Homo sapiens: one gene and its partners. The main gene of each other region encodes a partner of the protein of the gene in region 2 in a complex. Each region holds a gene or a part of one and is shown on either strand. Other genes may lie near its edges. The genes, in order: NFKB1, KPNA4, RANBP3 and RELA.

What was found.
Region 1: the proteins of KPNA4 (region 2) and NFKB1 are in contact, whole or in part, in a crystal structure (PDB 7LFC), measured with the Homo sapiens proteins. Residues at the interface, in NP_002259.1 of Homo sapiens: Arg96, Lys97, Leu99, Ser100, Ser101, Asp102, Arg103, Pro105, Phe133, Trp137, Thr140, Asn141, Ala143, Ser144, Gly145, Thr146, Ser147, Thr150, Gln176, Trp179, Gly182, Asn183, Gly186, Asp187, Asn219, Trp222, Val225, Asn226, Arg229, His230; in NP_001158884.1 of Homo sapiens: Glu357, Glu358, Val359, Gln360, Arg361, Lys362, Arg363, Gln364, Lys365, Leu366, Met367.
Region 3: the proteins of KPNA4 (region 2) and RANBP3 are in contact, whole or in part, in a crystal structure (PDB 5XZX), measured with the Homo sapiens proteins. Residues at the interface, in NP_002259.1 of Homo sapiens: Arg96, Leu99, Ser100, Asp102, Arg103, Pro105, Phe133, Trp137, Thr140, Asn141, Ala143, Ser144, Gly145, Thr146, Ser147, Thr150, Glu175, Gln176, Trp179, Gly182, Asn183, Gly186, Asp187, Asn219, Trp222, Val225, Asn226, Arg229, Asp261, Trp264; in NP_015561.1 of Homo sapiens: Asn114, Tyr115, Cys116, Pro117, Pro118, Val119, Lys120, Arg121, Glu122, Arg123, Thr124, Ser125, Leu127.
Region 4: the proteins of KPNA4 (region 2) and RELA are in contact, whole or in part, in a crystal structure (PDB 7LF4), measured with the Homo sapiens proteins. Residues at the interface, in NP_002259.1 of Homo sapiens: Lys231, Asp271, Arg306, Asn310, Val312, Thr313, Gly314, Thr315, Asp316, Thr319, Lys344, Glu345, Trp348, Ser351, Asn352, Ala355, Glu387, Trp390; in NP_068810.3 of Homo sapiens: Lys301, Arg302, Lys303, Arg304, Thr305, Tyr306, Glu307, Phe309.

What each region holds. Positions count from the first base shown.
Region 1 is NC_000004.12:102,497,463-102,504,396, forward strand, and holds the start of NFKB1 (nuclear factor NF-kappa-B p105 subunit), read left to right. Parts: upstream 1-3,896; 5' UTR 3,897-4,326; intron 4,327-4,471; exon of another isoform or gene 4,472-4,710; intron 4,711-4,976; exon of another isoform or gene 4,977-5,024; intron 5,025-6,934.
Region 2 is NC_000003.12:160,562,572-160,569,631, forward strand, and holds the start of KPNA4 (importin subunit alpha-3), read right to left. Parts: upstream 3,001-7,060; 5' UTR 2,712-3,000; coding exon 2,643-2,711; intron 1-2,642. UniProt on the Homo sapiens protein: Functions in nuclear protein import as an adapter protein for nuclear receptor KPNB1. Binds specifically and directly to substrates containing either a simple or bipartite NLS motif.
Region 3 is NC_000019.10:5,915,613-5,919,155, forward strand, and holds the end of RANBP3 (ran-binding protein 3), read right to left. Parts: intron 3,027-3,543; coding exon 2,884-3,026; intron 2,369-2,883; coding exon 2,182-2,368; intron 2,042-2,181; coding exon 1,998-2,041; 3' UTR 527-1,997; downstream 1-526. UniProt on the Homo sapiens protein: Acts as a cofactor for XPO1/CRM1-mediated nuclear export, perhaps as export complex scaffolding protein. Bound to XPO1/CRM1, stabilizes the XPO1/CRM1-cargo interaction. In the absence of Ran-bound GTP prevents binding of XPO1/CRM1 to the nuclear pore complex.
Region 4 is NC_000011.10:65,659,898-65,667,600, forward strand, and holds the start of RELA (transcription factor p65), read right to left. Parts: upstream 3,020-7,703; 5' UTR 2,936-3,019; coding exon 2,929-2,935; intron 2,681-2,928; exon of another isoform or gene 2,482-2,680; intron 2,451-2,481; exon of another isoform or gene 2,309-2,450; coding exon 2,282-2,308; intron 2,192-2,281; coding exon 2,040-2,191; intron 1,972-2,039; coding exon of another isoform or gene 1,939-1,971; coding exon 1,790-1,938; intron 319-1,789; coding exon 227-318; intron 1-226. UniProt on the Homo sapiens protein: NF-kappa-B is a pleiotropic transcription factor present in almost all cell types and is the endpoint of a series of signal transduction events that are initiated by a vast array of stimuli related to many biological processes such as inflammation, immunity, differentiation, cell growth, tumorigenesis and apoptosis.

The DNA of each region.
Region 1 (6,934 bases), on a different chromosome or scaffold from region 2:
CTAATGTTTTAGAAACACTCTCCTGACAACTATCGCATCTTTGCAGTTGTTTCCATTTCCAACGCCATGTCTCTCTGAGCAGCAGCCTTGAGTTTTCAATTGCATATTTATTAGTCATTTCCATATGGACATCTCACTAAATCTGTCATACTAAACATGTCTAAAATATGTATGTTTACATGTTACATGTATGTTTGGTATGTGGGAATGCATTACATTCCCACAGATTTTTTCCCAGTTACAGTGTTACTATTCTAATCACTCAGACTAGAACACTCAGAGCTATCTATGAGTCTTCCTCTCACTCAAACTGCATATATAATCTATAAACAGGTCCTGTTGACCTCATCTTCTAAAAATCTCTTACATGCTCCTTTTTATATCATTGGATAATAGTTTAGTGTGGTGGTTAATATCATGCACACTGGAGCCAAATCTGTTAGGTTCAAATCCTGACTCTCCTTCTATTTACTAATTATGAAACCTTAGGAAAATTATTCAACTTTTCATCTGTAAATATGGGGATTATAATGGTGATCCACTTTATATGACTGACAACCAAATAAGTGAATACGTGTATAGCAGGTATTAACCATATGCTTAGCCGACCTATTTCAACCTCCTAACCAACCAGAAGAACTGTAGTTCCCTGCTCTCTTGCATCTAAGTGGGGCCATGGAATGTGGGCAGAAGTGTTGTGTCACCTTTACTCAGAGGCAATTAAAAAGAAGACATACTTTTCCTATGTTCTCATTGCCAATGAACACACTACACAGATCTCAACCTCAGAATTCTCTCCACACTGGTATTTCCAAAATAGCTTCATGAGAAGGGAAATTTGTGTAGTTTCAATGATTTAGTGATGCTATGGTTTGGGTATTTGTCTCCTCTAAACCTCATGTTGAAATGTGACCCCAATTTTGGAGGTGGGGCCTAATGGGAGATGTTTCGGTCATGGAGGTGGATCCCTCACAAATAGATTGATGCTATTCCCTGCAAGGAGGAGAGGATGAGTGAGTTCTCACTGCATTAGTTCCTATGAGAGCTGGTTGCTAAAAAGTTTGGCATCTCTCCCCTCTCTCTCGCCATACGATCTCTCTGCACACACCACCCGCCTTTGCCTTCCATTGAGTGGAAGCAGCCTGAGGCCCTCACCAGACGCATATGCTGGTGCCATGCTTCTTGTACAGTCTGAAGACTGTGAGCCTAATAAACCTCTTTTCATTATAAGCTACCTAGTCTTGTGTATTCTGCCATAGCAACACAAATGAACTAAGACAAGTGACAAACACAAAATAACTTGTCTTTTAGACAATATTGATGTCTGAAATTCCACATTGAGGCATTTTTTTCCTCTTCGTAGCCTGATAATGGCAAATACCTTCTGACACCTTAGGATGGATGAATTTGTAAGAGATATTCCTGGAAGCAGGTTTGTACAGTGTAGAGAAAATGTTGGGTAACAAAGCAGGAATGGAGGAGGGTTAATCAGCAAGCCAAAAAGCTTTTATAGTTTTGCCTGCTGTGCTGCATGGAATTACATCCCCCCAAAACATATGTTCAAGTCCTAACCACAGGTACCTGTGAACATGAGTTTATTTGGAACTAGGATCTTTGCAAATGTTATCAAGTTAAGATGAGGTAATACTGGATTGGGGTGGGCTCTAAATCCAATGACTGGTGTCTTCATAAAAGAAAGGTGAGGGAGAGTTGAATATAGCGACACAAAGGAAACACGGGGAAGGAGACCATGTGACAATGTAGGCACAGAATGGAGTGTTGCAGCCAAGCCAAGAATGGCAAGGATTGCTGGAGCTACCAGAAGCTAGGAGGAGGCAAAGGATTCTTCCCTAGAGCCTTCAGAGGGATCATGGCCTTAATGGCACCTTGAGTTCAGAATTTTAGGCTCCAGGACTGTGACAGAATAAATTCCCGTTGTAAGCTGTTCAGTCGGTGGTAAATTTTTACAGCAGCCCCAGGAAAATATGCCTGCTCAACACCCTACCCTGAATTTTAAGTTCATTTTATGGAATCATTTTGAGTTTGGAGTTTGATTTAATCCTTTTCAGTAATTAACGCTCTTCATTTTTTACTCCCAAATATGTCACACTGGCTCTACTCTTATAACAATTGTATTTATCTATCTTTTGGTAATGGGGCTGCCACCCCTTGCAGAATGAAAAGTAGAGTGTGTATGCTCACACCTCCCTCCCTCCCTCCCTCTCTCCCTCCCTCTCTCTTTCTTTCTTTCTCAGAGTATCGCTCTGTCTCGCCCAGGCTGGAGTGCAGTGGCGCAATCTTGGCTCACTGCAACCTCTGCCTCCAGGGTTCAAGCGATTCTCCTGCCTCAGCCTCTGGAGTAGCTGGGATTACAGGCGCCCGCCACCACGCCCGGCTAATTTTTTTGTATTGTTAGTAGAGATGGGGTTTCACCATATTGGTCAGGCTGGTCTCAAACTCCTGACCTCAGGGGATCCACCCGCCTTGGCCTCCCAAAGTGCTGGGATTACAGGTGTGAGCCACCGCACCCGGCTCACAGAATTTCTTAAAAAGTCATTGTGTTCAGTCTTTATGGATCCTCTAAATTCCAGCTGCTCAGCCTCCCGGAGCTAAATGAGATCACTTAAAGGTCGACTGTTGGGGCCTCCAAGGTCGCCTCGGAGACTCACCTCATAGGCAATCAAATGGATCGCTGGGTTTTTGTGTGTGTGGGTTTTTTTTGTTTATTTTTTTTTTCCAGAAAAACACTCCACCAAGAAGGTTTTTATAACCTACTGGAGGAGGAGGATGGAGAGTGGGCACGAAAGGACTAGGATGAACATGCCATAAGCAATCTAAATGCCACTGCAATATTGCCTGGTGAGGACCTGATTACTGATGTTTTAAAGCTAAGCTTTCAGTTGTCACTCCACCCAGTAGTGAAACAATGAGCTCTAAAATATATATTTCGGCTCAAGCTTTCTTATGTGGGGAGGTAATCCACCCGAAGGTATCCCCAGCCTGTACCTAATACAGTGCCCAGCACTAAAGCAGCTCAGATGCCAGTGAATGGTGGCCACTGGGAGGCCTGTCAGTGGGTGCCAGTAGCGGTCTCTTCAGAGAAAAAGAAAACTCCCCTCTGCCAGATCAGTATTTTATGAGCTGTGAACCAAAACCATTGCTACCACCATCACTATAATTCTATCCACAGTAATTATCATAAAGGCCTAACAATGCCTTGTAGATGAACATTCTGAGTAACTGCTCTATAACCAGGAGATTTAAGACCGCACCAAAAACCAGTAGAGGGTTATACTTTACTGGGCACAAGTCGTTTATGATAACGAAATTGTAGTTTAATCTGTGAAGAGATGTGAATGTAACTGAGACACGCTTAAATGGAATATACAGATGAGCTTTATTTTTATATCTGGCATGCTTGGATCCATGCCGACCCTCCAGCTGCTCGGGCCTGCCCTTAGGGGCTATGGACCGCATGACTCTATCAGCGGCACTGCCACCGCCGCCGCCTCCGTGCTGCCTGCGTTCCCCGACCATTGATTGGGCCCGGCAGGCGCTTCCTGGGGGCTTCCCTACCGGCTCCAGCCCTTGGGATTCGGGAGCGCCCTGCTAGGAAGCCAGAGCCCCGCAGGGGCCGCGGCGTCCAGGCCGCCTAACGCGCGCCCCTCGCCCGGCGCCCCGAAGCGGCCCCGAGGGGCGGGAGCCGAGGCGAGCGGCAAGGCCGGGCCGGGGGCGCACAGCGCCCCTAGAAGTGCGGGCTTCCCCCACCCCCGGCAGCGACCCTACCTCCCGCCCCCGCTGCGTGCGCGCGTGTGTCCGTCTGTCTGTATGCTCTCTCGACGTCAGTGGGAATTTCCAGCCAGGAAGTGAGAGAGTGAGCGAGACAGAAAGAGAGAGAAGTGCACCAGCGAGCCGGGGCAGGAAGAGGAGGTTTCGCCACCGGAGCGGCCCGGCGACGCGCTGACAGCTTCCCCTGCCCTTCCCGTCGGTCGGGCCGCCAGCCGCCGCAGCCCTCGGCCTGCACGCAGCCACCGGCCCCGCTCCCGGAGCCCAGCGCCGCCGAGGCCGCAGCCGCCCGGCCAGTAAGGCGGCGCCGCCGCCCGGCCACCGCGCGCCCTGCGCTTCCCTCCGCCCGCGCTGCGGCCATGGCGCGGCGCTGACTGGCCTGGCCCGGCCCCGCCGCGCTCCCGCTCGCCCCGACCCGCACTCGGGCCCGCCCGGGCTCCGGCCTGCCGCCGCCTCTTCCTTCTCCAGCCGGCAGGCCCGCGCCGCTTAGGAGGGAGAGCCCACCCGCGCCAGGAGGCCGAACGCGGACTCGCCACCCGGGTAAGCCAAACTCGGGCGAGTGGGGGCCCGGCAGGGGACGCGTGGCCCAAGTCCTGCCGCCCAGCCCTCCGCACCCCCTCCAGCCCCACTCGGACTTCCTCATTCCTGCGCTAACCGCTGGGCTAGACCGTGGGAGGAGGTTGACAGTAGCTGAGAGGCACATGGGATTAGCGACAGCGGGGAAAGACACATCCGGACCTCGCAGGGGCTAGTCGGCCGAAGGGCCGCGGCCGCCCGGCGGTCATTTCTCTTCACGTCCCTCCGCGGGGCGGGAACGCGAACCGGAGGGGAACTCTTACAAACTTTTAAAATCCCCAACCCCAGCCCCACCTGGGGGATGGTGAGAAGGTTGGAGTGCGCTGCGGCGCGGAGGAGAGAGGGAAGGTGGTTGGTGCAGTGCAGAACCAGATTTCACCTAAGGGCGTTCCATGAAATGAAAGCAGAAGTGCTTGTCAGTCCTCTTGGCTGGGAAAGCCCTCCCCAGCTCCCCAGAATTGAATAGGAGAGTCTATTCATCCCTCTCCTACTTCTAAAAGAAACCTGGCTCGCTCTCTGTCTCTCTCTCTCTCCCCCCTCCCCCCCTCCGTGCGCGCGCGCGCGCGCACACACACACACACACACACACACACACACACACACGATATAGTCACCTGCTATAGGACTTGATTCTGATCCTCCGGGGCCTGGCATTTGAGAGAGAAAATAAATTACCTACCTGGATACTTAGAGCACTTTTTAGACTTGATTATGTAAAACTCTTGGACAGTGCCACCATGCATTATGCATGACCGCTGAAACAAAAATAATGTAAAAACAAGGCCTATCCTAAATGCAAGTTTTTCTATGGTCCTTAAAAACAGACACCAGGGAATGTTTGCCCTGACTTGCTGGTTTATCCTGAAACTCAAATGGGACTTAATGATACAGGATTTAATTATCAAGATTGACATGTTCATGGACTTTGTTAAGTAGAGGTTTTCAGCATTACAGTTTATGAAATAACCATATTTAACTCAAAGATTTTTTTATAAAGCTCATAATCTGAAAAAATGCTTATGGTATTACTAAAACATTTAATAGCTCTGGCATCAAAATATTCTACATACTGGTGATCTTTTAGTAAATAGTAAAGGTTAGGGTCAAGATATTCAATAATTTTTTTCTAGCAGAATCCCACAACTGAATATTGTCAAGCAGTTTAAACTGCATTCGTGTTTGTTAAAACTTTAAAAGGGAAACTTAAAACTAAAGTATGTTGTTTTTCTGATTTTAATATTGTGCTTTCTAGAGATGAATCCTTTTACTGTTTGAGGCACTATAGGAATTATGTATTTAAATGTATGTATTTAAATTTGAAGCAATGTACTTTTTTGAGTTTATAAACTTGGGAAGACAGGAAATAAAAAGATTTGTTTCCTGTAGAATTTTACATTCATGATTTAATTGAATTGCTAAAATGGAAAGAACATGTACGATTAATGGAGACTTGGAATCTGAGATTATTCATCCATATTGATACACCTGCAATTCCTAAATGCCCTCCCCTGCTTGTTTAGATAAAATGTCTTCCTGGGCTGCAGCCTACTGGACAAACTTGAACACAAAGGAACACACGTTATATGTACATTTAATACTGGAACCGAAAAGCTGCTTGCAGTGAAAAGCAAACCACTTCTAAACTCTTTGAGACTTTTTAAAGAAGGTAGTATAATCCTTTTAGGGGTTGGTGGTGATGTGAAAATCTATTATCTTTTTGCTGAAATTTCATTCTTATGTTAGGCATTGGCACTCACTTGTGCTGAGTAAATGCCCGTGTTTTTCAAACCCAGATAGTAAATACTGGGGGTATACATACAAAAATAGTCCTTCCCCTTTGTAAGCATTGCTTTGATCTTTGCACTTCCTTTTTACTCTACCTCTTAAACAAGATCTGTGTTGATTGAGTTGATTAAAGCACAATTAATCTGAAATAGGCAGAATTTTAGATTTAGTGATTATATTCCTTACATTTCTGTTGTTACTGTTCCTGGAAACAAATTGAAGTAGTTTGAGAAACTAATATTTATGCAGGTTGTTTTAACTACACTTTTAGACTTGCAGATAATTGATTAAGTAAGTTACTACCTTGACTTTCAGGGATTGCTCATTGTGGTAGATACGAGGTCTAGATAGGGAATTGGCAGCTACATGAATGTTGGACTATCATTCCATCAGCAAGACCTTATTTTTACCTAATTTATGAGAGGTATTTCTCTGTTCAGAAGAGGTGAAAGTTCTGGCTTCTGGGGGGAAGTGGTTACTTCATAACCTTCAATTGGTTTGAACTTGGGAGAAGTAAGAAAAGTAGTCGATATTTTCAAACAGTAAAATAATTGTATCTGAGTTGCTGTATGGATTTTTGATGAAGTACTCAAAATGTCATCTTTTGCATCTTCGGGTCTTAGTAGATGTGCTATTCTGAGTATAGAATTGACTGCAGTAGGAAGTGTATCTGGAAATGCACAGTACTGTTGTATAACCAATAGAGTAAATTCTCAGATTATGCTCTTCTGGTCCACAGATTGATCAGAAATCACATTAACAGGAATGGATGTCTATGCAAAATTTC
Region 2 (7,060 bases):
TAGACCACTGTACTGTTCTCTAAATATAAAAAAGAATGTTTCTATCTCATTACAAGCATATGTGATTTTGAGTAAGTCACAGTGTGGACAAAGTATGACTTTCTATTAGAATCATATGTTATTTCCTTAGGTGGAAGTGAAAATATTCCTACCCCTAATGTATGCACAAGGATATCAAAGTCATCAGAGGACAACCATAAGGCACTATGAATTTCTAAACAAAACAAAACAAAAAAACCTGGCTAATGTCAATATATACTTATTTTTTAAAAGTCACACATCACAATATTCTTCTAATACAGCCTCAGGACTTAATCTGATTTTGACTAAAGTGCCAAAAGATATGAGGTAGGAGGAAACATCAATTTAAAAAATAAGGATAACTTCAGAAAGTCTGGCAATTCCACCAAAGGTTCAAAGTAAGTTTCCATATGATCTAGCAATTCTATTCCTAGGTATATAGCCAAGAGAAATAAAACATACATCCACACAAAAATGTTCTTAGTAGTATTATGTAAAATAGCTAAAAAAGTGGAAACAATGAAAATGTTCATTAACTGAAGAAGGGATAAATAAAATGTGGTATATCCATGAGCTGGAGGATCATTGGATCATTCGGCCATAAGGATCATTCGGCCATGAAACATTGATACATTCTTGTTACAACACGGATAAACCTTGAAAACATTACACTATGTGAAAGAAGCCAGTTAAAAAAGAGCACAAATTGTACAATTCCATTTATATGGGATGTCCAGGATAGGCAAATCTAAGAAGACAAAAACTGGTTGCCTGGGGCTGGGGTAGTTGGGAATTGGAGAGTGACTGTTAATGAGTACAGGTTTCTTTTTGGGGCCGTGAAAATGTTCTAAGATGGACTGTGGTGATGGTTGCAAAACTGCGAATACACTAAAAGCCACTTTAAGTGGGTGAATTGTATGGCATGCGAATTACATCTCAATGAAGCTGCCAGAAAAATGAAGCCAGAAATGTAGAGGAAAAAAGGGTTATAGGGATCTGTCAAGCACCTAATTGCTATTTTTCTGGATTCTGTAATTTTGTGGTACTTACCAGTTTTTAAGTTTTATCATTTGTGATTTTTTCTCATTCTAAGTATTCATATTAGTAAAAAACATTTTCACCACATTCTTTCATAAACAAGTAAATTTACTGAAAAATCATTGTTATTTAAGAAGCTCATTTTTATGGCATGCAAATTATCTCAATAAAGATGTGACATCTTTGCATTAAAAAAAGGGATCACAATGGTAATATGTTAACCTTAAAAGAACCACAGAATTAACATCCCTGGACACTTAGTCGTCCCTCAAATTATGAAACCCACTAAAACGCTTGAACTACTTTAAAGATAATATTAACAGCTTTGTAAAAAGCCCAAAAAATATCTCAGTCAAGCAGACTCTCAAGTTCAGAAATGCCATGGGAAGTTGAAGATTTCATTATGAAAACGTACCGAGAACAACATAAAAAATACTGCTTGACCACTTTCCCTAAAAGCTAAACTCGTGATTAAGATGCAGAAGGGAAGTATTAAATCTATTTATCTAAACTCTTAAAAGCTGAAGGGAAGAAGTCTTCTATCAAAAATCTCAGTGGGGTGTGTGGGTATGCGTGTGTGCATGTGTGTATTTAACCCATACACCTTATGTAGACAATCTCGGGAGCAGCTGTATCTAAGACAATGAAGCTTTTTTTTTCCTTTTTAAATAATCAAACGTGATGGTGCCATTCCCTAGCCCACCCCATCCCCCACTACCACCACCAGCAGGTGGAGGGAAAGGATACTGTAGACTAGAGGATGACAGCTTTGTATAACCCTTTAGACTTTATATGTAAGAATGCAGCTGGTGGTCTCCTCTCAGGAGGGGGTAAAGAGATTTGTGGACAAGCTGAAATAAGGGGTATCCTTTGCCTGGAAGAGGGCACACCGTGAGCCACATCTTGAATCAGCTATATCCAGAGTAAAACACAGGCCGCTGGAAGGCACTGTTAGGATCACCAGGATGGCCTCTCACGCCGGGGGTGTTTTTTTCAACGGAGAAGTTGTCCTGTAGTTTGGATATTGGGGGGAGGCAGGGGTAAAGCGGGAGTCGGGAAGACCAGAAAAAATGCCTTTAAGTGGAGACGCCTCGGGCCTCGCTGAGGAAGTTCAGAGCCCCACTCGGTCGCCACACGCTCACCCTCCCATTCCCACCGCCCTCCTTCCCGCGGCGCCAGACGTCGGTGCCCGAGCGAGAGCCGGAATCTCCGCCACTGCCGGGGAAGGGGCCGCGGCCCGGCCGGGGCAGCACCGGCCGCACACGCACGCCTCCTCCGCACGCGCCGCGCCCGGCCTCCCCGCCGCGCGGCCCGGCCCCTCGCACCCGCGCCGGGCCGGCTCCGCCGGGCAGGCCTAGGCCGCGCCGGCCGTACCCGGGCACCTCGCTCCCCGGCGGAGGCGGAGCAGGCCCGACATAAACTTCCCGGCGCGCTAGCAGAGGCGTCACAGACGGGCCGGCCCCTAGCGCCATTCCCCGAGGCCTGGAGGCGGCTCCCGCCCCTAATCCCCACACTCGGGGTCCCGGCGGAGACCGGCCCCAGGCCCACAGCCCCCACCCCTCCGGCGTCGTCCCCGAGTTTACCTCCAAGTCGCGGCCTTTGTTCTTGAAATTCTTGAGCCGTTGGTTGTCCAGTTTCTCGTTGTCCGCCATGGCCGGGCCGGTGACTCCTTCCCCCGCCCGGGCCCCGCGGGATCCGCCCCAACCAACGCGCCGCACCGACACTCCCAGGAACCGGGCCGCCGCCTGAGCTGCTGTGCCCGCCGCGCCGCCGCTTCCTTCCTCCTCTCACCTGCCTCCGCCGCGGCCTTCTCCTCTCCCCGCCCGCCCCCCCGCCCTAACCCCAGCGCGACTGCAGCTCCGGCAAAGACAACTGTGGGGCCGGGCGGCGGCAAGGCGACGGAATGTGCTGCCGGCTGAGAGGGGGAGGCAGCCTCGATCTGAGGGCCCCGGCGCTGCGGCCACGCCCATCGCCTCCAGCCCGGCTCGCCCATTGGCTAACCAGGCTCCGGTGCGTTCGACCAATCAGAAGGGGCGATGGAGAGCCGGGGCGGAAAGAGCGAACGGAAAGGGGAAGCGAACGACGCTGGGAGGAGCCGGCTCCGGGCCCGGAGGGGTGCGGCGGGGGCAGGCGGGGAAGGACCACGTGCCTTCGGAGAGAGGGGTTGGAAGCAATAGAGAAGTAGACTTAAGGGGAAACCAGCAAGGGGAAGGAGAGGCCCGGGAACGCAGCAGGGCGAGTTGTTTTGCTCCACTCGTCCAGGAAGCCCTAGATGCCGGGGGTTCAGGGTCGAGGCTGCGTTAAAGTAACGTTCTTTTCTCCCCGGGCGCGCCCTGTCTTCCTGGGCATTCCTTGCGCTCTCCGTTCGCTTTGCAGAGAGATCTGAGCTTCGCTGTCTCCCGGTCGGACGCTCGCAGCTGCGTTCCCGGGCTGGGGCTCCGTGCCGTCCAGGGCCGGGTCTGGGGGCCAGGACCTGCTGGGATGACGTGAGTTGAGGAGGCTCAGCGGAAAGCGACAGGAAAGGTGGGTGGAAAAGGAAAGGGCCCATTAGACGAATCTGATTCATCTTCTGTGACTAAGCACCCGCAACAGTTAGGAATTTAGGCAGAGCTGGTGATCCTGGGACAATAGCACTTCCTAGGTAATTCGTCTTAAAAAGTTAAAGAAGCTGCTTGACCACAAAGTATGAACTTCTGGAGGGCGGGGCCCGTGGCAGCTGACAGGGAATATTGTGTGTTGAGAAAGGAAATGAGTTCCAAGGATACCAAGGACAACGTTACCAGAGGCAGAAATGACACGAGATACAAAAGAACGTATTCAAAAATTTAACAAAACAGAAATGGAAAATTATTTTAAAATATATTGAAATATCAACGAATAACACCTCAAATGTACAGGGATATGTAAAGCAGCAACTCGGGTCGGAAGCAAGGAATCGAGGCGTTGGGTGTGTTTAAACTTGACGAGGTAGGGAGAAGAGACCCTGATACAAACTCCTTCAGAATCGTTGACTCTCGGTCCTTTCTAGTATATTTTTTTAGTAGAACAACGTGCAGATAAGTGTTTAAAATGCAGATCTTCCTAAGGAAACACTTTTAAAGGCAACAGAGGGGAATTTTTTTTTAAGTTAAAATGGAAGAAGTTAGTGGGTTTAACAGATATGAACAACTGAGTTTCCTTTGGGGGAGAGGCAATGAAAAGAGCCGGAGTACTTTAGGGATCACTTTGGAGAGGATATTGTAGTGGGGGAAAGGAAGGTAAAAACTTAGGAAGCAGAGTAGTACCTTTAAAGTCGTCAGTACTTTATATACCATCAACTGGGCTATGGACAACAGAAGCTGTGCCTGGAAATAACTCACACTGAAGGTTAACTTGAATATAAATTTAGAACAGATCTTAAATACAAATGATGATGTTCATTATAAACTGTTATTCTTCAAAGACTCATTTAACTGAAGTAACATTGTATTTGCATACCAGAGCACTGGTGTTTTTCAAAATGAGTTTAGGATAAGAAAATTCACTTGAAAAGCTGGAGTATGTATGTATTTTGCGCCATCATGGATTTTATCATAAGCAGTGTTCAAGAAAACAAATTACCAGCGAATTCCCACCCTATGAGTAAAAGTTATCTTGTCAACATATCAATAGATGAACATTTTGTACTTCTTGGAATACATTTCATGGTAGCTTTCATGATGAAGTTTATAGACGTGTCTGTTATATGTCTTCATGTCTCCAGCTACAACTGAGTGTCTCTGATGATTAAACAACAACCCGAGTTTTCTCTCTGCAGAAGACTCCTAAAAAAGAGTTGTAATTAGTTACCAGCTGAGAAAGATGCAATACAAATAGGAAATAACCGCAATTTATAATTTTATTTATCTAAAATCTGTCTTCCTCCCTAGACAGTAAGCTCTCTGAAGTCAAGAACCATAGTTGTTTTGTTCACTACTGTATACTCAGCACCTAATAGTACTTGGCACATAAGTACTCAGGGACTATTTGTCAAATGCAAGAACATATGCCCCTAAAGCAGAAGTCAGGAAAACCAGAAAAAATGCCTTTAAGTATTACAGAAATGCCACAGGCCTCCACTTAAATTGAAAAGCAAGCTAACCCCTCTTGATAAAAATGTGGATTGAGATCAAGAAGCAGCTTCTCTGCTCCTTCTGGAATCTCCACCTGGTTTAGCCTGCTGCCTCCACTCCTGCCTCCACCATGTCCATCAGGGTGATCCAGAAGTCCTACAAGGTGTCCACCTTTGGCCCCCAGGCTTTCAGCAGCCACCCCTACACTAGTGGGCCCAGTGCCTGCACCAGCTCCTTGAGCTTCTCCCTAGTGGGGAGCTTCACTGTGCAGCTTCTGGGGTGGCCTGGGCGGAGGCTATGGTGGGGCCAGCAGTATGCGAGGCATCACCACCATCACGGTAAACCAGAGCCTGCTGAGCCCCCTTAACCTGGAGGTGGACTCCAACATCCAGGCTGTATACACCCAGGAGAAGGAGCAGATCAAGACCCTCAACAACAAGTTTGCCTCCTTCACAGACCAGGTATGGTTCCTGGAGCAGCAGAACAAGGTGCTGGAGACCAAGTGGAGCCTTCTGCAGCAGCACAAGATGGCTGGGAGCAACATGGACAACATGTTCGGGAGCTATATCAACAACCTTAGGCGGCTGCTGGAGCCAGGAGAAGCTGAGGCTGGAAGCGGAGCTTGGCAACATGCAGGGGCTGGTGGAGGACTTCAGGAACAAGTATGAGGATGAGATCAATAAGCCTACAGAGATGGAGAATTAATTTGTCCTCATCAAGAAGGATGTGGATGAAACTTACATGAACAACGTAGAGCTGGAGTCTCACCTGGAAGGGCCGACTGTATGAAGTGGAGATCCGGGAGCTGCAGTCCCAGATCTCCAACATGTCTGTGGTGCTGTCCATGGACAGCAGCCACTCCTGGACATGGACAGCATCATCACTGAGGTAAAGAGGCAGTACAAGGAGGTTGCCAACTGCAGCCGGGCTGAGGCTGAGAGCACGTACCAGATCAAGTATGTGGAGCTGCAGACGCTGGCTAGGAAGCACAGGGATGACCTGCGGCATACAAAGACTCAGATCTCCAAGATGAACCGGAACATCAGCCAGCTCCAGGCTGAGATTGAGGGCCTCCAAGGCCAGGGGGCTTCCCTGGAGGCCACCATCCCAGATGCTGAGCATCGTGGGGAGCTGGCCGTTAAGGATGCCAATGCCAAGCTCTCCAAGCTGGAGGCCACTCTGCAACGTGTGAGTACCAGGAGCTGATGAAAGTCAAGCTGGCCTGGAAATGGAGGTCGCCACCTACAGAAAGCTGCGGGAGAGCTAGGAGAGCCAGCTGGAGTCTGGGATGCAGAACATGAGTATCCATACGAAGACCACCAGCGGCTATGCAGGTGATCTGAGCTCGGCCTATGTGGGCCTCACAACTCGTGACCTCAGCTATGGCCTGGGCTCCAGCTTTGGCTCTGGCACAGGCTTCAGCTCCTTCAGGTGCACCAGCTCCACCAGGGCCGTGGTTGTGAAGAAGATCGAGACCCGCGATGGGAAGCTGGTGTCTGAGTCCTCTGACTTCCTGCCCAAGTGAACAACTGTGGCAGCTCCTCCTAGTCTGCCCCTCCCGTGGCTGCCACAGACTCCAGGAGGGAGGCTGCTGTGTGGGGAAGCACAGACAACAGGAGACCCCCCACCTGAGGCTCAACCCACCCGTGGGGGAGTTTACTGTCTGGGGACCCCCCTTGCCCATGCTTCCAGCTAGAAAACAATTGTGGTTTTTTTTTTGGTCCAAAATAAAACCTCAGCTAGCTCCACCACAAAAAAAAAAAAAAAAATTGTGGATTGAGTCGTTATTGCTTCTAGTTTACTGAGTTCCTTCTATTTATATAAATTCTTGATTTGATATCAAGCTCATTCTGGGGTGAAAGTTTAGGGAATAAATCAGACATACATTTCAGGGCAAAACCCCCTATGTA
Region 3 (3,543 bases), on a different chromosome or scaffold from region 2:
AGGTCCCCCGATCCCCGCACCCGGACTGCTGCTCCCTGCCCCTCCCTTGCGGGTCCCCCAGGAAGCCAGGTGACCCCAGGTGGGAGGCTGTGTGTGGAGGCCATCCTGGAAGGAAGTTTAGACCTGCCCAGGTGTGGAGCGAGGGGCACAGGGGCATCCTAACCTCAGAAACTGAAATAAAGCCTTTGAAAAAAAAATCTGTAAAACATCAACCCCCAATCAGAAGATGGCAAATGGGGAATAAAAATAGCAGGTAACATGTCCAGCGGGCCCAGTATCTACATTCTGGTGAGCGGCCCGAGGCTGGGAGCTCTGGGCGGGGGCAGACCGGCGGGGCCTTGCAGCAGGGGTGGGGGTAAAGTGCGGGTGGTGGTGGAGAGAACAGGGCTGTGGCTGGACCCCAGCACTGGTGACACGCTGGGTGGGAGCATGAGGCCCCAGGCTGCTGGAGGTCCTCGCCCGGGGAGGTGGAGGCCGTTCCTGGTCAGGGGCTTCCTGAGGCCCCTGGGGCATGCAGAGGCCAGGGTTTTAGTTAAAAGTTTAATGTAGTTCCCAAATACATTTCATATGACAATCTTACATAAATGTTCCAAAACACATGGGCGTTATCTCGTTGTACTCGTCACTAGCTGGCTAAGGCTTAAAGCAGAGACGTGTGACTGGGTCTCTCGGGAGGGCCTCTGGTTCTTCCCGGGCTCAGGCTTGCTGGGGGCTGGGGGCCAGGGCTCTGGCGACCTAGAGGTGTGGACGGCACAGCTGCAGGAGGCCTTCTCTTAACCCTCCGAGAGTGGGACTGGGAGATTTCCTCTGAAGTCCCAAAGAGGCCCTGTGCCCAGGGGACCTCCTCCTCGGCCTCCCAGGTGGGTGGTGCAAGCTGGCTCTTGGCCATGCTCCAGGCTCGGGTGGGCACAGGCGTCCACTCCAGTGTGCTGCGTGCTTGTGAGACTGCCTGTTCTGGGACCAGCCCCTGGGCTCTTCCACCAAGATTTGGTGAGGGTCCCCCTCTGCCTCTCACAGAAGCCCCTGGCCCTGGACTGTCCTGGGGGCAGGGACACCTGTGGCTGGGGAAGGGATGGCCAACAGCGGGAAGCAGTTTGCGCCTGGTGCCTGATGATGGTGAACCACGTGACAGATGGAGACGGGAGTCAGGGGACCCTGGGGACCCTTCCAGGTCCAGTGACCTTTTCCCAGACAGGCACTCTCCAGGCCTAGGACAGACAGGGCCCCAACTCCTCATCACCCCATGACTTGGCCTGGAGGAACCTGGGGTGGGAAACAAGTAGTCCCCCAACCTCAGAGGCCAGAACCACAGGTGGGGGACAGGGACCTCGACAGAGCTGTGCCTGCTCAACGCTCGAGAGCATCTTAACCTAAGAAACCAAAACAAAGCCTTCGAAAATAAAAAGAAAAAAAGATGTAAAATATACACCCCCAATCAGAGAGGGGAAGTGGGAAATGAAGATAGTAGTTAACAGCACGTCCAATGGGCCCAGTGTCTACACTCGTACGAGCAGCCCCCCAAGCTGGGCGGGGGTCCCAGGCCTATAGTTGGGGAGCCCTGGGCAGGGGCAGAGGGCTGGCTGCTCCCCACAAAGGCAGGGCCCCACAGCAGGGTGGGAAGGGTGTGGGTGGCGGAGAAGCCAGGGGCTCTGGCTGGACCCAGAGGCTGGCGACACGCGGGGTGAAGGAACGAGGTCTCCAGTCCCAGTGAGAAGCCGTGACAAGTCTTAATGTGCCATTTCAATTCAAAGGAGGGGAGGGAGGAAATGTTCTTGTTTGTTCGCTCATCAATATGATGAGGTCTCGTGTCCCAAACCACATTCAGGCAGTTCCCGAGTCTGCTTTTGAACAGGACGTGCGGGTCCAGACTGTGGCCGGCCCAGTGGGGTGTGTGGTTCCCGGCCCCGCACCTGGACGCTGCCGGTGGGGTGGGGGCGGGTGGGCGGGTGGATAGACGGACAAAGCAGCAGCCTGGTGTGCAGCCGGGCTCCCGGCCGCTATGTGCTCCCGGTCGTCTGCCCGTCCCCTTCGTCACCAGCACCTGCAGGGAAGCAGCAGCCCCGCATCAGGATGGAGCCCGCACTTCCCAGGTCTGGCCACCCCCGCCAGGAGATCAGCACTGGATCAAGGATGGCGGGCAGCTCTTTCTATCCCCCCCAGGGTAGGGACCACCCGACTCACCAGCTGCGGTGGCCCCTGAAGGAGCCAGGACATCGTCATCGTCGCTGTCGTCCTCCTCGTTGGATGGGGCTGCCCCAGGCTCAGGCGCGGGCATCTTGGCCTCCTGCTCCTGCTCCACGCGGCTGCGCAGGGCCAGGATGCGGTGGTGCAGGGCTGCATACAACTGACCTGTGTCCTTGGAGCTGGCCTGGGAAGGGAGGAGGGTATGAGACCCCCGGACCCCAGTCCTACCCCCTCCTGCCTTCTGCAGAACACAAGTGCCAAGTCCCAAGGTTCAGAGGTGACACTGCCACAAGGCCTTGTGGGGAGGCCATTGGCCCTGGGCCTGCCGGCCTCTCCCCGAAAGGATGCCACCACTCCCAGGTGGCTGGGAATATCCCAGAGGTCAGGGTTGGTGGACTCGACTGTGACACCATGACATAGGAGAGAGGTGACCGCCCCACAGGGCTGTTAGCCCTGAACACATCACAACCCCTCAGCCAAACCCCAGCGGCTTCTCTGGGTTGAGAAGAGGACAAGGACCATGATCTCTATTCCTGAAGGCTGGGACTGGCGGGTCCCATAGTGCTTCTTGTGTCCCAGGAAGCAACTGAAGCCCCTCCCCCCTCCCCTCCCCACCGTCCTGCCTGATCTGTGTGCCCAGGAACCCCCACAGGGCTGGCAGGATGAGGGGTCCCAGATGCACCCGCGTGGCTGGCTCACCGAGATCAGGAAGACCTTCACGCCCTGGTCCTCGGTGTCCATGGCTGTGATGCGAATGCTCTTCTCGCTGGCCTTGTCGATCTGCATCTGGGCCCACAGCTTGGTGTTGAGGATCAGTCGCAGGCTCCCCTGGGTCCGCATCACTACAACCAACAAGGCCACTCAGCCCTGGCCCCCACACCGGCCCCCTCACAAACAGCCAGCTCCAAGAGCCAACACAGTCCAGATGGAAAGCGACATCACCGCGCAAAAGCCCATGATCCTCCCAGGACCCACCCACAGAGCAAGACTTCTCCCTGAGGCCAGCCCTGGCACACCTGCTCCCGGGGCGGGGCTCCTCCTCCCCAAGCCTGGACCACTGAAGGCCACAACTGCAGGTGGCTGCACAGGCTGGTGCTGCAGATCAGTGACCAGAGGCCACATGCAGCTTGTGGGAGGTTGTGTTTGGTCCACACAGGTGGGCACCAGGATGGCAGTTCCCTTGGAGAAGGGGGGATTAGAGAGGAGTACGGGGTGGGCTGCGGGAGGCAGGGGCTGACACTCAAGGTGCATGCGCTTTCTGTGTGTGTGAGACATCGGCCTCCATGGGAGTCCACGTCCTCCTGACTGGCCTCCCCTGAGTGGGCCAGCCCTGCCCTCTGGTTTCCTTAGGAGAAGGCA
Region 4 (7,703 bases), on a different chromosome or scaffold from region 2:
TGTGAAACACAAGTCCTAGAGGAGGCAGAACCCAGCACTGACTCCACTGTGGCCTGAATGTCATGTCCCCTCCTGGGACTCAGTTTCCCAGTGGTAAAGTGGGAGAGTACTGAATGGGCACCAAGATTCCAGCTTTACTGTGTCTTGGCCAGTGAGGGAGATGCAGGAAAGGCGGGCTGGGGAGGGTGACAGAGGGTGCGGGTGTGGCAGGCAGGTTTGCCCTCACCTTGGAAGGGGTTGTTGTTGGTCTGGATGCGCTGACTGATAGCCTGCTCCAGGTCCCGCTTCTTCACACACTGGATTCCCAGGTTCTGGAAACTGAGCGCCCCCAGTCGTCTGTCCCACTGTCTCTCACAGAGCCCAGACCTTCCTGCCTTGCCCAGCCTGCTCCTTCCTACTCTGCCCACCCCTAGATCATCGCTCCATGCCTAACCCTCTCCAGTGGCTTCCTACTGTGCTGCAACGAACCCTGTCCCTTCACTCAGCTGACAAGCACCTCCGTGCCCCTGCCCCTGCCAGCCTCCCTGTGGGCTCCCTGCTTACAGCCACCGGGGCTCCTTTTCCACTCTCTAAACACAGGACACTCATTCCCACCTCAAGGCCTTTGCACTTGTTTGGTCGGCTTGGAATGTTCTTTTCCTACTTCTCTCCTCCTTCTCACCATTCAAGTCTTAGCTGAGGGAGGCCTTCCCTGACCTCCCAATCTAAAGTCATCACACACCAGCTCCCCTAACTCCCCCACCCCAGGTTATCCTTCTATCCTATGACCTCGTTTTATTTTCAGGACTGAAACTGTTACTCTGACAGCACCTTGTTTATTTATCTGTGTATTTATTTATTTTTAAGAGACACAGTGTCGGGCCGGGTGCGGTGGCTCAAGCCTGTAATCCCAGCACTTTGGGAGGCCAAGACAGGCAGATCACAAGGTCAGGAGATTGAGACCATCCTGGCTAACACGGTGAAACCCTGTCTCTACTAAAAAATACAAAAAATTAGCCAGGCGTGGTGGCAGGCACCTGTAGTCCCAGCTATTCGGGAAGCTGAGGCAGGAGAATGGCATGAACCCGGAAGGTGGAGGTTGCAGTGAGCTGAGATCGCGCCACTGCACTCCAGTCTGGGGACAGAGCAAGACTCTTTCTTAAAAAAAAAAAAAAAAAAAAAAAGACAAGGTATCGCCCTGCCACCCAAGTGCAGTGGTGCAATCATAGCTTGCCGCAGCAGTGACCTCCTGGGCTCAGGCGATCCTCCCACCTCAGCCTCCCTGGGACTATAGGCGCATGCCACCATACCCAGCTAATTTCTTATTTTTTGTAGACATGGGGTCTCACTATGTTGCCTTGGCTAGTCTTGAATTCCTAGGCTCAAGAGATCTTCCTGCCTTGGCCTCCCGAAGTGCTAGGATTATAAGCATGAGCCACTATGCCCGGCCTGTATATTTTTTTACAGCCTGTCTCTGTCAACTGCAATGTCAACTCCAGGGGAGAGTGCTGGTTCAATGGTTTTCTTCCTCAAACAAGAGACGTGACTCTGAGGGACTTGTCCTTCCAGCTACAGGGGTCAGGAATTCAGAAGTGATTAGGGACCCATCCGTATCCCCTGGAACTCATCTGCTAGAGTAAACGTACAAATAGATAATTTCAAGACAAAGGCAGTTTACTTGCAGAGCTGAGTCAGGGCAAGGAGTGAGGAATTCTGCCCTGGGTCCAGAAAGGAGTAACACTGTAGCGGCTACTTCATAGCCCGCCTCCTGTCCCCTCATGCTGGGCCTCCTAGCCTGCAGGGACCTCACCTGTGGATGCAGCGGTCCGGGCAGAGCTCAGCCTCATAGAAGCCATCCCGGCAGTCCTTTCCTACAAGCTCGTGGGGGTGAGGCCGGTGAGGAGGGTCCTTGGTGACCAGGGAGATGCGCACTGTCCCTGGTCCTGTGTAGCCATTGATCTGTCCAAAGTACAGAGGCCCAGACATCCAAACCTGACTCCCAAACACAGAGGGCTGGGGTTCCACAGTCCCTTCCCCGCACACCCTGGCGCAGTGCTGACCTTGATGGTGGGGTGGGTCTTGGTGGTATCTGTGCTCCTCTCGCCTGGGATGCTGCCCGCGGAGCGCCCCTCGCACTTGTAGCGGAAGCGCATGCCCCGCTGCTTGGGCTGCTCAATGATCTCCACATAGGGGCCAGAGGCCTGGGCTGGCTCTGCCAGGGGACACCGCAGCCCCATTAGGCGGCTGCCCCCACTGCCCTACCCCAGGGAGCACCTCCCCGACCGCCGCGGGGGCCACTTACCTGCCGGGAAGATGAGGGGGAACAGTTCTGAAAGGGGAGGGAGATCAGGGTCAGCACACACCCAATGCCCATTCTCACAAGGAGGAATCTGCTCTCCACGGAGAGGAGAAGCCAGGCTCCCTCCCAGGGGAACTGAGTCAGGACCTGCTCCCTAGAACCTGCGGTGAAACTAAGGGGTGGAGGAAAGGAACCAGAAACACCTGCTTCTTGAGGGAAAACGGGGTAAGGAATCCTTCTTCTCCAGAGGGAAGCTGAATCAGGGCCTGTTGTACTTTCTTAAGGAAAATTGAGGGAGGGCACGCCCCACCTCCCTCCAGAGAGGAAACTGAATCAGATGCGTTCTCCCCTAATAGGGAAACGAAGCCAGAGCTGCCCCCATGGACGGTGTGGAGGGAAACTGAGTCAAGGTTCCCTCTGCTCCCCCACCCAGGGAGGATGCTGAGTCAAGGGCCACCCCCTCCACCCAGAGGGGAAACTGAGTCAGACCCCTCCCCGCCTGCCCCGCCCCGCGCCACCATCCGGCAGGCCGACCGCTCCCTGCGCAGCGCCCGTCGGCGCAGGAAGGGGCGGAAAGCGGCGCGGGGGCTCCCGCCACAGCCGCGGCGGCCCCGGCGATGCCACCCCGCGGGGTCAGAGGGCGACCTCACCGTCCATGGCCGGGGTCCCGGGGGCGGGGCCGGGGTCGCAGCTGGGCCCGCGGCGTGCACTACAGACGAGCCATTCGCCAGAGGCGGAAATGCGCCGCGCGGCCCGCCGTCGCGTCACTGCCCGGAATCCGGCCGCGCCTGCGCGCTGCCCCGCCGCCGCCCGGCGCAGGGGCCGGGAGCAAGTGCACGCCGCGCGGAGGACGAAGAGGCTGCACGCACAGCCGCTGCCGGGGGTCGGGGCCAAGTGCGCGCCTCGCCGAGGACGAAGAGGCTGGCGTGCCCGGTGGCTCGGCTAGCTCCCGGGTCCCGGCCCCGCCTGGAGGGTGGGTCCGCCGATTACTCACTTTGTTTTTAGGGGATTTCAGGGCCCCCTCCCGCCGATCGGCGGAGTTTGGTGATGTCACTCTGGGCCGGGTCTGGAGCAAAGCCAGGGCTACTGGGCTGCGGCCGCCCGCCCCGCGCAGGGAAAAGCCCGACCGGGCCTTCTGCTCCGCAGAGGCCGGGTGGTTGAACTCCGCGCGGGTTTCCTAACCGCTAAAGGTGCCTTTCGGTGGTGGCTGTCTCAGAAGCACGTTAAAATGTCCTACCCACCCCAATCTAGATGCGGCTGTGGGGGAATGGGAGCGGCCGGACCTCCCAGCCTGACAGTGCATCAAGAGCTTTGCGGAGCCTACAGCCCGGATGGGACGACTGAGGCCCTCCCGCTGGCGAGCTGGCCGAGGGCTCGTCCCTCTCCAGCTAAAGCGCCAGCTTACGATACAGCCAAACTGCCGGCTCTCATCGGCTGTGGGAGCAGGAGGCCCCCAGGGGTAAATCCCGGAGCCTCGTCTCTGAAGCCTGGCGCTTGTGTCTCAGAAGGTGCGGGACCCACAGGGACACTTGAATCAGCAGGCTCACGACCCCCCACCCCCCTGCCCCCGCCTGTGTTTGCCCTGGACCTCCAGCTAGGGCTGACCACTAATTCTGTCATGTGACCCCACAGTGCAGGTAGCTCCCCCAAGACCAAGCCCAAGGCGCGTCCGTGTGGAGGCTGGGGCTGACGCACCCCCACCCCAGGCCTCATCCCCAAAGGAGGATGCTCCACTGCAGGGGGCGGAGTCTTCTCCAGATGGAGAAAGACTTTTTTATTTTCTCTGAATTCGTCTTAAATTAGGAAATCATGTGGGAATTGGAAAAGATTGGAAATTCTGACTTGTTTCCCAGGCTCTGAAGAAACAGGAAGAGAAAAGTGAAAATAGAGTTAGCACCCCGCCCACTCATTTCAGTTTCTCCAGTGGCTGGCCCTGATTAGAAAAGTGTTTACTTTTGGCAGGGGGCGGGGGAGGCCGACTTCAGGTGACAGAATGGATTAATTAAAATCTTTGGTTAATGATATACAATTATCATTGAACCTTGCATGGATCCTCTTCTTAAAATTCATGTATATTTATAACTTTTAAATTAATACGATAAACACCCATGTACCCATTGCAAAACTCAAGGGGCCACCACCATCCAGAATTCTGTATTGTATTGTATTGTATTGTATTGTATTGTATTGTATTGTATTGTATTTATTTATTTATTTATTTTTTGAGACACGGTCTGTCTCTGTCGCCCAGGCTGGAGTGCAGTGGCACAATCTCTGCTCACTGCAGCCTCTACCTCCTGGGCTCAAGCAATCCTCCCACTTCAGCCTCTTGCATAGCTGGGACTACGGGAGCACACCACCATGCCCGGCTAAGTTTTTGTATTTTTTGTAAAGAAGTGGTTTAACCTTGTTGTCCAGGCTAGTCTTGAACTCCTGAGCTCAACTTTCCTCCCCGCTTGGCCTCACAAAGTGCTGGGATTACAGGCGTGAGCCACCACGCTGGGCCAGAATTCTGTATTTTTTAAATTAATTAATTAATTAATTTATTGTAAATAGAGATGGGTCTCACTGTGTTGCCCAGGCTGGTCTCAAACTCCTGGGCTCAAGCGATCCTCCCACCTCAGCCTCCCAAAGTGGGATTACAGGCATGAGCCACCACACCTGGCCCAGAATTCTGTATTTTAAAGAAAAAAAAAGTTATATCTGCATGCCTACACAATATATCTTTTGGTTTTCCTTAGTTTTGAACTTTTTTTTTTTTTTTTTTGAGACAAAGTCTCACTCTGTCGCGCAGGCTGGAATGCAGTGGCATTCTGCTTACTGCAACCTCTGCCTCCTAGGTTCAAGCGATTCTCCTGCCTCAGCCTCCTGAGTAGCTGGGATTAAAGGGGCCAACCACCACGCCCAGCTAATTTTTGTATTTTTTTAGTAGAGACGGGGTTTCACCATGTTGGCCAGGCTGGTCTCGAACTCCTGACCTCAGGTGATTCGCCAGCCTCTGCCTCCCAAAGTGCTGAGATTACAGGTGTGAGCCACCGCACCCAGCCAGTTTTGAACTTTTATGAAGAGGGCATCATATGATTTGTTGTCCTTTGTTACTTGCTTTTTTCACTCAACCTGTTACTATGATTCATGTTTCACAGTTAATTCACTTTTTCACTGCTGTATACTATTTTGTTGTGTAAATATACCACAGTTTGTTTATTCATCCTGAAGATAGGCATTTTTATTTTTATTTTTTTGAGATGGAGTTCCTCTCTTGTGGCCCAGGCTGGAGTGCAATAGCACCATCTCGGCTCACTGCAACCTCTGCCTCCCAGGTTCAAGTGATTCTCCTGCCTTAGCCTCCTGAGTAGCTAGGATTACAGGTATGCATCACCATGCCCGGCTAATTTTGTATTTTTTTTTTCTTTTGAGACAGAGTTTCGCTCTTGTTGTGTGCAATGGCACAATCTCGGCTCACAGCAACCTCTGCCTCCCAGGTTCAAGTGATTCTCCTGCCTCAGCCACCTGAGTAGCTGGGATTACAGGTGCCTGCCACCATGCCTGGCTAACTTTTTGTATTTTTAGTAGAGACGGGGTTTCACCATGTTGGCCAGGCTGGTCTCAAACTCCTGACCTTAGGTGATCCACCTGCCTCAGCCTCTGAAAATGTTGGGATTACAGGCATGAACCACTGCATCTGACTAATTTTGTACTTTTAGTAGAGACAGGGTTTCACCATGTTGGCCAGGGTGGTCTCTAACTCCTGACCTCAGGTGATCTGCCCGTCTCGGCCTCCTAAAGTGCTATTACAGGCGTGAGCTACCGTGCCCAGCCATGGGCATTTGGACTTCTAATTTTTTGCTGCCATAAGCTTTAGAGCACTGAGTAATATATAAAAACAGCAATCATGTAGTTTTTAAAACTTAGTCTGGGGTTAAAGAAGTATGTAAACAACTATGTTTTCTTAAAGATTTATAGGAGCATTGTGACTGGACCAAGGACAAAGAAGTTCCCAACCTCCTCAGACCCTCGCTGCTGCCCAGATGTCTGCCATGGGGTACTTCTTGACCACACCCTCCTTCTCTTCCCTGCCCTTAACATAGAAAGAGCCTAAGATTGTACTGACTTAAAATGGTACTTTAGAACGCTAGTACACCGTCCTCTCAGTCTTGCTGGCTTTCAGAATAAATCAGTAAACCTACTTTTTCTCCCACCAACGCCCCTATCAGTTGGGATCCTCTTACCTCGGCCTCCCAGGTAGCTGGGACTATAAGCACTCACCACCACACACAGCTAATTAAAAAGAAAACAATTTTTTGAGGCAGGGTCTCACTCTGTCGCCATGCTGGAATGCTGTGGCATGACTCGTTGCTCACTGCAGCCTCAAACTCCTGGGCTCAAGCAATCCTCCCACCTTAGCCTCCCAAGTAGCTAGGACTAACAGCGTGCACCACCACACTCAGCTAATTTCTTTTTTTTAATTTTTAGTAGACACAAGATCTTGCTATGTTGCCAAGGCTGGTCTCGAACCTCTGAGCTCAGGCGATCCTTCTGTCTCAGCCTCCCAAAGTGTTAGGATTACAGGCATGAACTACCAAACCCGGCTGAGTTTTTTAAAATCTTAATGAATGCATGGATTTAAATATATTAGCTGTGTTTTAATCAAGTATAGTTATTGAAATTCAAATTATTCGTCTTTGGTTAGGGAGAACTTCTTCAAGTTGGTTGTTCTTCAGTCCTTTTGACACAATTCCAATATATGAGTCTTGGTGGCTCATACCTGTAATCCCAGCACTTTGGAAGGCTGAATGGGGAAGACTGATTGAGGCCAGGAGTTTAAGACCAGCCTGGTCAACATGGCAAGATCCCTATGTCTATTAAAAAAATAATTTTAAAAAAGCAATTACAGTAGCCTGTGATAGCTTCTTTGCTGTTTGGTATGAAAAGATATTTCTTTTCTTTTTCCTTTTTTTTTTTTGAGATGGAGTTTCGCTCTTACTGCCCAGGCTGGAGTGCAATGGTGCAATCTCGGCTCACTGCAACCTCTGCCTCCCGGGTGCAAGCAATTCTCCTGCCTCAGCCTCCCAAGTAGCTGGGATTATGGGAGTGTGCCACCACGCCCAGCTAATTTTTGTATTTTTAGTAGAGATGGGGTTTCCATATTGGTCAGGTTGGTCTCGAACTCCTGACCTCAGGTGATCCACCTGCCTTGGCCTCCCACAGTGCTGGGATTACAGGCATGAGCCACAGCGCCTGGCCTGAAAAGATATTTCTAGACTCATCTAGTAAATTTTCTGCCCCAGATCTGGAATCAGACAGCTTTCCAAGGAGTCCTGATTTCTCTTAGTAGGAAATGATATTTAAAGACTACAGCTTGAGTACTTCGGATACTTATTGCTACTGAGTCAGTCATTGTAGATGTTTTCGGTGAATAGTTAGT